Linked DNA regions of Homo sapiens. The protein of the gene in region 1 purifies or fractionates together with the protein of each later gene. This does not show direct contact. Each region holds a gene or a part of one and is shown in the gene's direction. Other genes may lie near its edges.

The links.
Region 2: the proteins of RBFOX2 (region 1) and PUM1 purify together in Homo sapiens (affinity purification with mass spectrometry; 3 studies listed by BioGRID and IntAct, with this or other methods). This does not show direct contact.
Region 3: the proteins of RBFOX2 (region 1) and EIF4G3 purify together in Homo sapiens (affinity purification with mass spectrometry; 3 studies listed by BioGRID and IntAct, with this or other methods). This does not show direct contact.

The regions. Positions count from the first base shown.
Region 1 is NC_000022.11:35,763,200-35,766,853, reverse strand, and holds part of RBFOX2 (RNA binding protein fox-1 homolog 2), read left to right. Parts: intron 1-1,370; coding exon 1,371-1,431; intron 1,432-3,654. UniProt on the Homo sapiens protein: RNA-binding protein that regulates alternative splicing events by binding to 5'-UGCAUGU-3' elements. Prevents binding of U2AF2 to the 3'-splice site.
Region 2 is NC_000001.11:30,968,142-30,971,795, reverse strand, and holds part of PUM1 (pumilio homolog 1), read left to right. Parts: intron 1-3,303; coding exon 3,304-3,442; intron 3,443-3,558; exon of another isoform or gene 3,559-3,633; intron 3,634-3,654. UniProt on the Homo sapiens protein: Sequence-specific RNA-binding protein that acts as a post-transcriptional repressor by binding the 3'-UTR of mRNA targets.
Region 3 is NC_000001.11:21,170,244-21,173,897, reverse strand, and holds part of EIF4G3 (eukaryotic translation initiation factor 4 gamma 3), read left to right. Parts: intron 1-3,654. UniProt on the Homo sapiens protein: Component of the protein complex eIF4F, which is involved in the recognition of the mRNA cap, ATP-dependent unwinding of 5'-terminal secondary structure and recruitment of mRNA to the ribosome. Functional homolog of EIF4G1.

The DNA.
Region 1 (3,654 bases):
CTTTTGCTGACTGGTGGTTTCTGATTGGTTCTGGCCATTTTTCCTTTTAAGTGCTTGGTTGCTTTCTGCTCCAGCAGCTGGTTTCAGCTCTTGCTCCATTCTAATCCTTGTCTGTGAGAACCTTGCTTTTCAGTTTCTCCCCTCTTTCCAAAATTGATTGTTTTTTCTTTCTTTTATTTGTGTGTGTGTGTTTTTTAACTGCATGCTCTCAGTCTCATCATTGTTGTATCCCATTCTTTCTTTTTAAATGTGAAACGTTTATATTATTTGGTGGGCGAAGCTAGAGTAAATGGAGTTTCAAGCTCTTTCCTCATATGGGGGATTATCACTGTACAAATCTTAAAAGACATAGGAAGAGGTTTTTTTTTTAGTTCTAATTCTACCTAAAATTGGTCTTTTCATAACAAAAATTTATTACCATACAAATTGAACACAATGTAAATTTGAAGAGGCAAAAATAAGACATTTATATTTTATGCTTCTTTTTTCAATTGGCATGTTTTATGACCTGACAACACAGTATAAGTCAAGTTCTATGGTGGAGCTTTACCCTCCTTGCAAGAGCTTTGAGACTGGTTCTGTCACTGGGCTGCAGTATGCTGACATCTTAGTTCCATTCATCTTTTCTTCAGCAGCAGCATCTTTGTAACACCTACTTACTCTAGCACTGAGAATGCTTTAAAATATGCAGTTCTGTAATGAGGGTGGAGAGTACCATAAAACAAAATAAATAAACACTTTATTTTCTCAATTCTTTTAAGTGCCTACTTTAAAGGCTTTCTTAAAAGCTTTGTTCTTAAATTGATAGACCATGTAGTCTAGAAAATTCAGAATGGTCCTGAAGGCTGTCAGCAGGGGAATCTTAGGTTTCTATATTTGTTTACTTACCTCAGACAGTAAAAATCTCTGACAGACATATTTAAAATGCTGAACATTAGGACAGGTGAAATCAGATTTATTTTATCACCTTTCCATCAATCTATTTCATAACCCATGTGGCAAGCCTCTGTTTTATTAACAGACTTCAAAGTGAATTGCTAATATAGTTTCCTATTTACTTTTTTCTGTGTTTTCCTTAGTGCAGAGATTTCTCTGTTAAAAAGATGTCCAAAGATCTTGCAAATGTATTTTCTTTGGAGTACTGATATTTGGAAACCAAGAAACTCACTTTACTCTTGTTATCCTCATTTGATAAGAACTTTAATTAAAATACTATATATTAATATTTTATATTGCTGTGTTAATTATTTAAATCACTGCTCTCAGAAATTTACATTTTAAACTAAATACTCTGTTATTGGATGTGCAACTTTATGTTCCCTAATGTGGTCCACTTCTTCCCTGCCCTTTTTTCTCCTTGTTATTTTTAGGTGAATAATGCTACAGCACGTGTAATGACCAATAAGAAGATGGTCACACCATATGCAAATGGTAAGAAATTATAATCTTCGAAAGAGTGTTTATTCTTGTGTAAATATATGAAGTTTTTATAAACTTCTAAGAATGTCTTTATTTCCGTCTTAAGACAGTTTGATTTGTGTTGAAGTAGTCTCTTTACCTGGGAGAGTATTTTATTTTTACAGAATAACTTTGTCATTACAATTGAGCTAAGTTTTTAGTTATTAAGGTGTTATGTTCTAAGTAATGTTCATCTTTTACACAGTGCAAACATGCTATCTAGTTGCCTATTAACCCAAATTGGATCCCACCTGAGCACCTTCTTTTTCAGCTGCTGTAGCTCTTTCTAATATGTTAGACTTGTCCGTAATACCCCTGGATGCCCACTGACTCTTACTTTTAGTTCTGACTTTCATTCATCTGAGCATAAGTGGAATAAATTAGGAGGATATTTTAATCACTTTTATAATTCTGGACCTGTTGCTCTCCTTAGCCCTAGAGATAACAGCCATGGGTATGGTTGTGTGTGTATCATTTTCTGTTTCATGATTACATATTATATAGTAAGGTTTATAAGTTTTTCTCATTGAGAAGGAAATTTTCTATGAATAATTTGTTACATCAGTTACCAAATTTAATCTAGACTCATGGTCTCTGAATGAGATGGAATATAAATTTAATCTGTAGCCCAGTGGTGGTTTTGCAGACTGTTCTGCAGAGCCAGTTTGGGAGAGAAAAAGGAAACCAAATGGATTGAATTCTGAGGTCTCAGCTGTACTTTAGTCTGAGCAATTAGGGTTCTGCATAAGCTTTTACTAATATCTAGAATAAAGGGGGGAGTTTCTGCTGGAGTTTTTTTTTTTTTTTTTTTGAGACGGAGTCTCGCTTTGTCACCCAGGCTGGAGTGCACTGGCGCAATCAAGGCTCACTGCAAGCTCTGCTTCCCAGGTTCACGCCATTCTCCTGCCCTCAGCCTCCCGAGTAGCTGGGACTACAGGCGCCCGCCACCACACCTGGCTAATTTTTTGTATTTTTAGTAGAGATGGGGTTTCACCGTGTTAGCCAGGATGGTCTCAACCTCCTGACCTCGTGATCCGCCCACCGTGGCCTCCCAAAGTGCTGGGATTACAGGCGTGAGCCACCATGCCTGGCTCTGCTGTTTTTTTAAAAAGTTTGAACCCACTGCTAGAGTATGGCTGTATGTGCTAATAATGTCTTAAATCAAGGAGAAATGTATCCGTATTGACTATATCCCATAAAGTCTTCAATAAATATATTTAGCCCAGCTTTTCACATAGATGATACAAATTTATCAGCATAATTTGCATTTTTCCTTACTCCTTTTATCGGTATGATACCACTGCCTCCCACTTTACCTCTTATTTTCTTTTCACTGCTCTTACAAAAACAAGTCTCTACAATTTTGATAAAAACTCAAAGTAAACAAAATAGAAAGGAGAGGCAAAGAATGTCAAATTTTCTTTACATCTAAGGGAAATATTGTGACAGAAAGAGCCTCTGACTGGAATTCAGAAAACAGACGTTCTCCTTCTAGGTTTGACTCTTTATTTACTCCGTGACAGTGGACCAGTTTTTTAACCTAATTCTGTTTTCATATTTATAAATTGAGACCACAGATTTTTGGCACCAGGATTTTTTAAGAAATTATTGAAACTCAACCCTCCCAGCTTATTATTAGGAAATGAGACCCAGAAAAGTATAGTATTGACCTCAGATTGCAGATGTGGTATCTATTTTACCTTCCTCTTTGGGTTTTGTGAAGGTCAAAGGGCATCTGTGAAAATACATTGTAAATTTTCTAAAACTAAATATATTCAAAGTATTACTAACAACATGTCAATATACATCCATTATATTGATTTTTGTTTTTGTTTTGAGGCAGAGTCTCTCTGTCACCTAGGCTGGAGTACAGTGGTGCGATCTCAGCTCACTGCAACCTCCACTTCCCGGGTTCAAGCGATACTCGTGCCTCAGCCTCCAGAGTAGCTGGGATTACAGGTGTGTGCCACCACATCCGGCTAATTTTTGTATTTTTAGTAGAGACGAGGTTTTGCCATGTTGGCCAGGCTGGTCTCGAGCTCCTAGACTCAGGTGATCCCTCCGCCTCAGCCTCCCAAAGTGCTGGGATTACAGGCTTGAGCTACGGTGCCTGCCCATTATGTGGATTTAAAGGGAATGCTCAGGCAATAGTGGCATTGGTAGGAAAGAAAAAGGTTATTTTTTAAAATATTATTC
Region 2 (3,654 bases), on another chromosome or scaffold:
TTTCTGTGCAGAGTTAAGTGCTGTACATGTAATTTCTATTTCTCTTATTATGATAGTTGTACAACTTCTTGTTTTATGAAATAGAATTTCATAATTGAGAGGAAATCGATTGAGGAAATACAATTTGTGTGCCCAGGGTCACACAAATACAAAGTTGTTAAGATTTGAACATAAGCCTCTGTCTTGACAACTTTTCTTCTGACCATATTGTGATGTCTTGACTTAAAGAAAATCTGAGATCTTGTGTTTCTTCTGCCGTTAACTAGCTTACAACTAGGGCAAGTTGGATGGCTTCTCTAAATGCATATATTTTTGTTATAAAATGGACATAATAATCATTAACTTTTCAGTTTTCTGTCATTCCCTACAGGTTCTGTCAAACCCTACTAAGAAGTTTTTAGCATTAGTTTTTAATTAGCAGCCATTGTTTTAGTTCCTTTTTTTTGGGTGCCAGTTTCTGATTTTAAGTATTTGAGGAAAATATGATTTTTTTGGTAAACTGCCTTGTCATAGTAATTAAAATGAGAGGTTCTTTTTAAACTTTGCTGTTGGCCTTTTGGGCCCTTGTATTTTATCAGAAAGTATATGTTGCGTTCTAGTCAAGCTGACTGTTCTAGGATAGTTTTTATAAATTCAGTCATTTTGTGATTTATTAGACTTTAAAATGTTACTTGTGAAACTGTATATTTTGTTTCCATAAAATCATGGATTTGACAGCTATTGATGAAATGAAAATATATGAATTTTGGCAGATAACTGAAGGACTTTTATTTGTAGTTAGGGGTACTGGACAGATTTCTAGAGAGTGGACAAAAAGCTAACACTGTTTTCCTTCCTTATTACAAGACTCATCAATAGTCTTAGACTACCTCTTTAGGTACCTTGTCCACTCTACCACACCTGCCCTTTCACAGAACACCTAATCAAACATAAACCTACTTCTTTATATTCTGTGAAAGCAATGCTTTCATTGTTTTTTAAAATCTTCAGCAATTTTGAACTATTAGCATTTGCCATATTTCTGTGCTTGCTATTTACTTATCCTAGAGTGAGATCTCTTCTGAGTTATTGGGTATGTAAATTCTAAGTATTTGGCAAAAATGCTTGCTATTTACTTATCCTAGAGTGAGATCTCTTTTGAGTTATTGGGTATGTAAATTCTAAGTATTTGGTAAAACTCACCTGTACAGCCCCCCGACTCTTCTATCTACGTAGTTTGAAACACACTTTCTCTTACAAAGTTGGTTAGGTTCTTTAGGTCAGAAACAAATTATATAATATCTTGATAATAGTGATTTGCTATTGGTTATTGATGATCTCCTGGGTATCAGGCAGTGTGGCTTAAACACATTATTTGAGATATTTCCAGCAAATCTGCAAGATCATTTGTTAATTCTTACTTATTACTGATATAGAAGTAAAAGATTGGGCAAATTAAGTGTCCACACATCCCTTCTTGCCAGTGTGGACAGTGTTGGTCACCTTATACTCACTTAACAAATATTTAATTGGTTATTAGTGTTGCTTCTCTTTTTACATTTTTTTTTTACCACTGGTACCAAGAATAATTTGTACCCATTTTCTTGACCATATGTCTAACTTTTATAAATAACACAGTGAAATTGAAAGTGATCTGATAAGAACTGTACACTTGACAATATGACAAAACACATTGTTAGGAACTGTAGTAATTTTAGCCTTGGTTTGTGGGTTTTGCATTTTTGCTTGCTGGAGTGTGTAGATCTTGTGAGATAGATTCTTCACATCATTCAGAATAATAATGATTGCTAGCATTTTGATGTCTGTGTTTCATTAATAAAAAGTAGATCCTTGACTGGGCTCAGTGGCTTCACACTTGTAATCCCAACACTTTGGCAGGCCAAGGCAGGTGGATTGCTTGTGCCCAGGAGTTAGAGATTAGCCTGAACAACATGGTGAGACCCTGTCTCTACAAAAAATAGAAAAATTAGCCAGGTGTGGTGGTGCATACCTGTAGTACCAGCTACTCAGGAGAGGTGGGAGCATCTCTTCAGCCTGGGATGCAGGGGTTACAGTGAGCTGAGACTGTGCCACACTACACTCCAGCCTGAGCAGCAGAGCATGGCCCTGTCTCTTCCCTGCACTCCGCGCCACCCGCCGCCCACCAAAAAAAAAAAAGTAGATCCTTTATCAGAGTGGCATAACTGGTATTCTGCACTGAACTTGACTAATGCGTATGTTTGTGGAATTTCTGAGAGGGAAATAGAAATAGTCAGGTGAGAGCCCTACCAAATCGAATCTGGTGAACTCATTTGGGGCCATGTGGACCTTGATAAATATATTAGTGTTAAAGAGGAAATATTCTCATTCCATCTTTTGTGTGCATGTGAGACTCAGTTGACTTTAAATGTGTGGGTAAATTACCCCTGTTCATCTTGTCTGGAACCCCTCCCAACCCCCATTAATACTCTTTTTTTTTCTTTTTTTTTTTTTTTTTTTTGTGTGTGTGTTTTGAAATGGAGTTTTGCTCTTTTTCCCAGGCTGGAGCGAAGTGTCTCGATCTCAGCTCACTGCAACCTCCGCCTCCCAGGTTCAAGTGATTCTCCTGCCTCATCCTCTCTCGTAGCTGGGATTATAGGCACCTGCTGCCACGCCTGGCTAATTTTTGTAGTTTTAGTAGAGACGGGGTTTTGCCATGTTGGCCAGGCTGGTCTCGAACTCCTGACCTCTGATAATCCACCTGCCTCGGCCTCCCAAAGTGCTAGGATTACAGGCGTGAGCCACCACGCCTGGCCTGTTACACTCTTTTTTTTTCTTCACCCACTTTTTGTCAGAGCACTGACATTATATAGTATGGTTTATTGTCTGTCTCATTCGTTAAAATAAAAGCTCCATGAGGACAGGGGCTTTGTCGGTCTTGTTCATTGCTCTGTCTCACTTGCCCATTTGCCACATGGTAGGCATTAAATATTTGATAACACTACCACTTGCTGATGCCAGATATTCCAAATTCATCTTTTAACTTAATTGTCACAAGAACTTTATGAGGCAGATGAGATAAAATGTTTGAATGAATGAATCATCACTTTTGTGTGCTTTTTGCTGCTTATAGAGATAATGTGTTTAAAGTAAGAATGGTAGAATGAAATTCCACTCTATGAAATGTTATTAATTGAATTTATACGCTAACAGCTGTGACATATAAAAACCATTATAGGGAAACAATTTACAATTAAGTTTTAAAAGTTGACCCAACCTGAGCATAGGGTAGGTCTTCTCCAATGAAAAGAAAGTGGTTGAGTTATTTCTGTCTTCCTTTCCCAGGTTCTCCGTGGAGGAGCCAGCCAACGTCCTTTGACCCCAAACCAGAACCAGCAGGGACAGCAAACGGATCCCCTTGTGGCAGCTGCAGCAGTGAATTCTGCCCTTGCATTTGGACAAGGTCTGGCAGCAGGCATGCCAGGTGCGGCTGCATTGTTATTCCTAATACTTTGGCAGGGAAAAAGGCTGCACGTTTGAGGTGATTACAGAGGGGAATGAGCAGTGCTTTCACCTTGCTTAGGCTTGTCATGATTTGGGGACTGGCAAGGATGATACACACTTGCCCTCACTTAGACTATAGTTCACTGATGAGAGCATTGTTCTGAGCCAGTCTTAAGTCATATTGGAGGTATC
Region 3 (3,654 bases), on another chromosome or scaffold:
TTTTCTACCCTGAGGGAGTATGGGAATTTGTATTTGACGCAAGTGGTCATTGTTCAATAAGTGGATAACATTTAAGCATCTTGGCAGGAGTGCATAGCTGGAGTTAGCACTGTTCATGGCTTGAATAGATCTCCAGACCCTCAAAGTATGTGGGTATAGTTGTGTTTGCATTGAATTAATAAGTTCAGACAGTTTTATTTATTTATTTTTGAGACAGAGTCTTGCTTTGTCGCCCAGGCTGGAGTGCAGTGGTGTAATCTCGGCTCACTGCAACCTACGCCGGCTGGATTCCAGCCATTCTCATGCCTCAGCCTCCTGAGTAGCTGGGATTACAGGCGTGTGCCACCAGGTCCAGGTAATTTTTTGTAAGGCGTGATCAGACTGGGTTTCACCATGTTGACCAGGCTGGTCTCGAACTCCTGGCTTCAGGTGATCCGCCTGCCTCAGCCTCCCAAAGTGCTGGGATTACAGGCATTGAGCCACCGCACCTGGCCCTGATCTGGTGAAACCTGGTCTCTACTAAAAGTACAAAAATTAGCCGGGCGTGGTGGCGCCTGCCTGTAATTTCAGCTACTCAGGAGGCCAAGGCAGGAGAATCGCTTGAACCCACGAGGCAGAAGTTGCAATGAGCCGAGACTGCACCACTGCGCTCCAGCCTGGGTTACAGAGTGAGACTCCACCTCAAAAAAAACAAAATCAAAGGTCTTCTAGAAAATGTTTGGAACCCACGTCTTTTTTTTTTTTTTTTTTTTTTTTTTTTGAGATTGAGTCTCGCTCTGTTGCCAGGCTGGAGTATAGTGGCATGATCTTGGCTCACTGCAACCTCCGCCTCTTGGGTTCAAACGATTCCCCTACCTCAGCCTCCTGAGTAGTTGGGACTACAGGTGTGCGCCACCATGCCTGGCTAATTTTTTGTATTTTAGTAGAGACGGGGTTTCACTGTGTTGGCCAGGATGGTCTTGATCTCCTGACCTTGTGATCCGCCTGCTTCTACCTCCCAAAGTGCTGGGATTACAGGCGTGAGCCACTGCACCCGGCCGAGAACCACATCTTAAGTCAATGGAGAGGATTCCTGTAATCCCAGCACTTTGGGAGGCCGAGGTGGGCAGATCATGAGATCAGGAGATCGAGACCATCCTGGCTAACACGGTGAAACCCCGTCTCTACTAAAAATACATAAAATTAGCCAGGCGTGGTGGCAGGCGCCTGTAGTCCCAGCTACTTGGTAGGCTGAGGCAGGAGAATGGCGTGAACCCGCGAGGCGGAGATTGCAGTGAGCCGAGATCGCTCTACTGCACTCCAACCTGGGTGACAGCGAGACTCCATCTCAATAAATAAATAAATAAATAAATAGGATTGCCACATTTTGCCATTTATATTGAGGCTTCAATAGATGTGGCAAGTTTATGAATTCATTAATTCAGCATCCACTGTGTGCTGCTACACTCAGTGCTAGATGTAGGATTGAAGAGCTAAGGTAGAAATCTTTGCCCTCAAAGAACTTGGTCCTTTTGGTTAGAGGTGGGTAAACAAAACGTCATGAGGCAAGTACAGTGATAACTGATAACTCTGCTGTGAGAGTAGTCTGGGGAAGGAGGAATTAAGGCTTTCTAAAAGAAGTTGACATCTCAGCTAAATTAGAAGAATGAGTAAGAATTAACCCAGGTTTACATAGCTTTCTCTTCTGCCGGCCTGCTTTTTCCAATTCCATTGCTGCTCCATAGAATTTTAATAAATGGATTTCAGTCACGTTTCAGGCTTTTTTTTTTTTTTTTTTTTGCTAGAGGAGGTACCAGAGAAAGTGACAGTCAAACACAAGCTAAAAATTCAAAGTATTTTCTGTATCATAATCTAAGGAATTAGTGTATGAGAAGGAGATACATACCTGATCTGATCTGTGGTGGGTCTTTTCCTGGTCTCCTTCCCAGTGCATCTCGTAATATCCTTGCCCTTTTAATACTAGACTTTGGCTTAGAAACAGTACTTGCTAGTCTTAAAATAGAAGTAGATTTACCTTGGTGTATTGAGAAGTGTACCTGATTTGGAGGCAAAAAATCTGGTTTTGAGTTTGGCTCTTTCATTGTAGTAGATATCTTATCTTAGACTAACCATGCAACTGCTTCAGGCATTGGTTATCCCTTCTCTGAAATGTAGGGTCTAGACTCATTTATTCAGTGACCTTCTTGAATTATAATTGCTTATGATTGTCTTTTGAGATTTGTGTTATTCTTGCAAGTGGAGAGGAGGGATTTACAGAAACCAGTTAATGTTTTCTTTGTCTGATGGTAAGTGACATGTTCTGTGGTGGCTTATTGATATTAGAAGATACTAACATGGGGCAGAGGCAGAGGCAAAGCAGCAGTTTGCTCATATAAGCTACTTCTGGTTTTTGGCTTGTTAATGTTAGATTCAGCCACAGAGACAGAAGCACCTCTCTAACTTCAGTGGTGAAGACTGTATAGTTAGTTGTGAGATAGTGGGAGACCATAAAATAAGGTTGCCATGGTCATTTGCTGGCTTGTTCTGGGTGATGATACAGTTAGTTCATTATGAGATATGAGGGAAAGTAAGTTCTGGAATAAACTCCCGTGGTGCTGTGGTGAGACACAATCTATTTTTACCTAAGGAATAATACTTTGAGCTAATATAATAGGAAAGTAACTAGTTCCTGATTATTAGCCACGCATATGACTTTAAGCAATGGATAAACTGCAGCTGAGACTTACACGGATGAGATATTGCAGGATCCCAAGCGACTTCTGAATTCTCAAATGGCTTCCAGTTCTTTGGCTTGCTGCCAACCAAAGGAATTTTTCAATCTCCTGTAGCTCAGCTGAAATTTGAGAAAGTTAAACTATTTTAAGTGCATTTGAAATTTGTTGGTTTTTACGACTTTTTTTTTTTTTAATTTATTTTTTTAGACAGGGACTTGCTCTGTCACCCAGGCTGGAGTGTGATCTTGGCTCACTGCAACCTCTGCTTCCTGGGTTCAAGTGATTCTCATGCCTCAGCCTCCCAAGTAGCTGGGATTACAGGTGTGTACCACCACACCTAGCTAATTTTTGTATTTTTAGTAGAGATGGATTTTGCCATGTTGGCCAGGCTGCTCTTGAACTCCTGACTTCAAATGATCCATCCACCTTGACCTCCCCAAGTGCTGGGATTACGGGTGTTAGCTACTATGCTCTACCATGATCTTTATTAACTAATAATTGTTTTGTACTTTTTTTTGAGACAGAGTCTCTGTCGCCCAGGCTGGAGTGCAGTGGCGCAGTCTCGGCTCACTGCATCCTCCACCTCCTGGGTTCAAGTGATTCTCCTGCCTTAGCTTCCTGAGTAGCTGGGATTACAGGTGCGCGCCATCACACCCATCTAATTTTTGTATGTGGGGTACAGGTGGGGTTTTACCATGTTGGCCAGGCTGTTCTCGAACTCCTGACCTCAAGTGATCCACCCATCTCAGCCTCCCAAAGTGCTGGGATTACAGGCATGAGCCACCACACCTGGCCTGTTGTGTACTTTTTTGAGCCCACTGTGTGCTGCCTGACTTTATAAGACATTGAATTTTGTTAATAGAATGTAAACTCCATGAAGGCAGAGATTTTTGTTTATTTTGTTCACTGTGGAATTGCTAGCACCTAGAATACTGCTTGA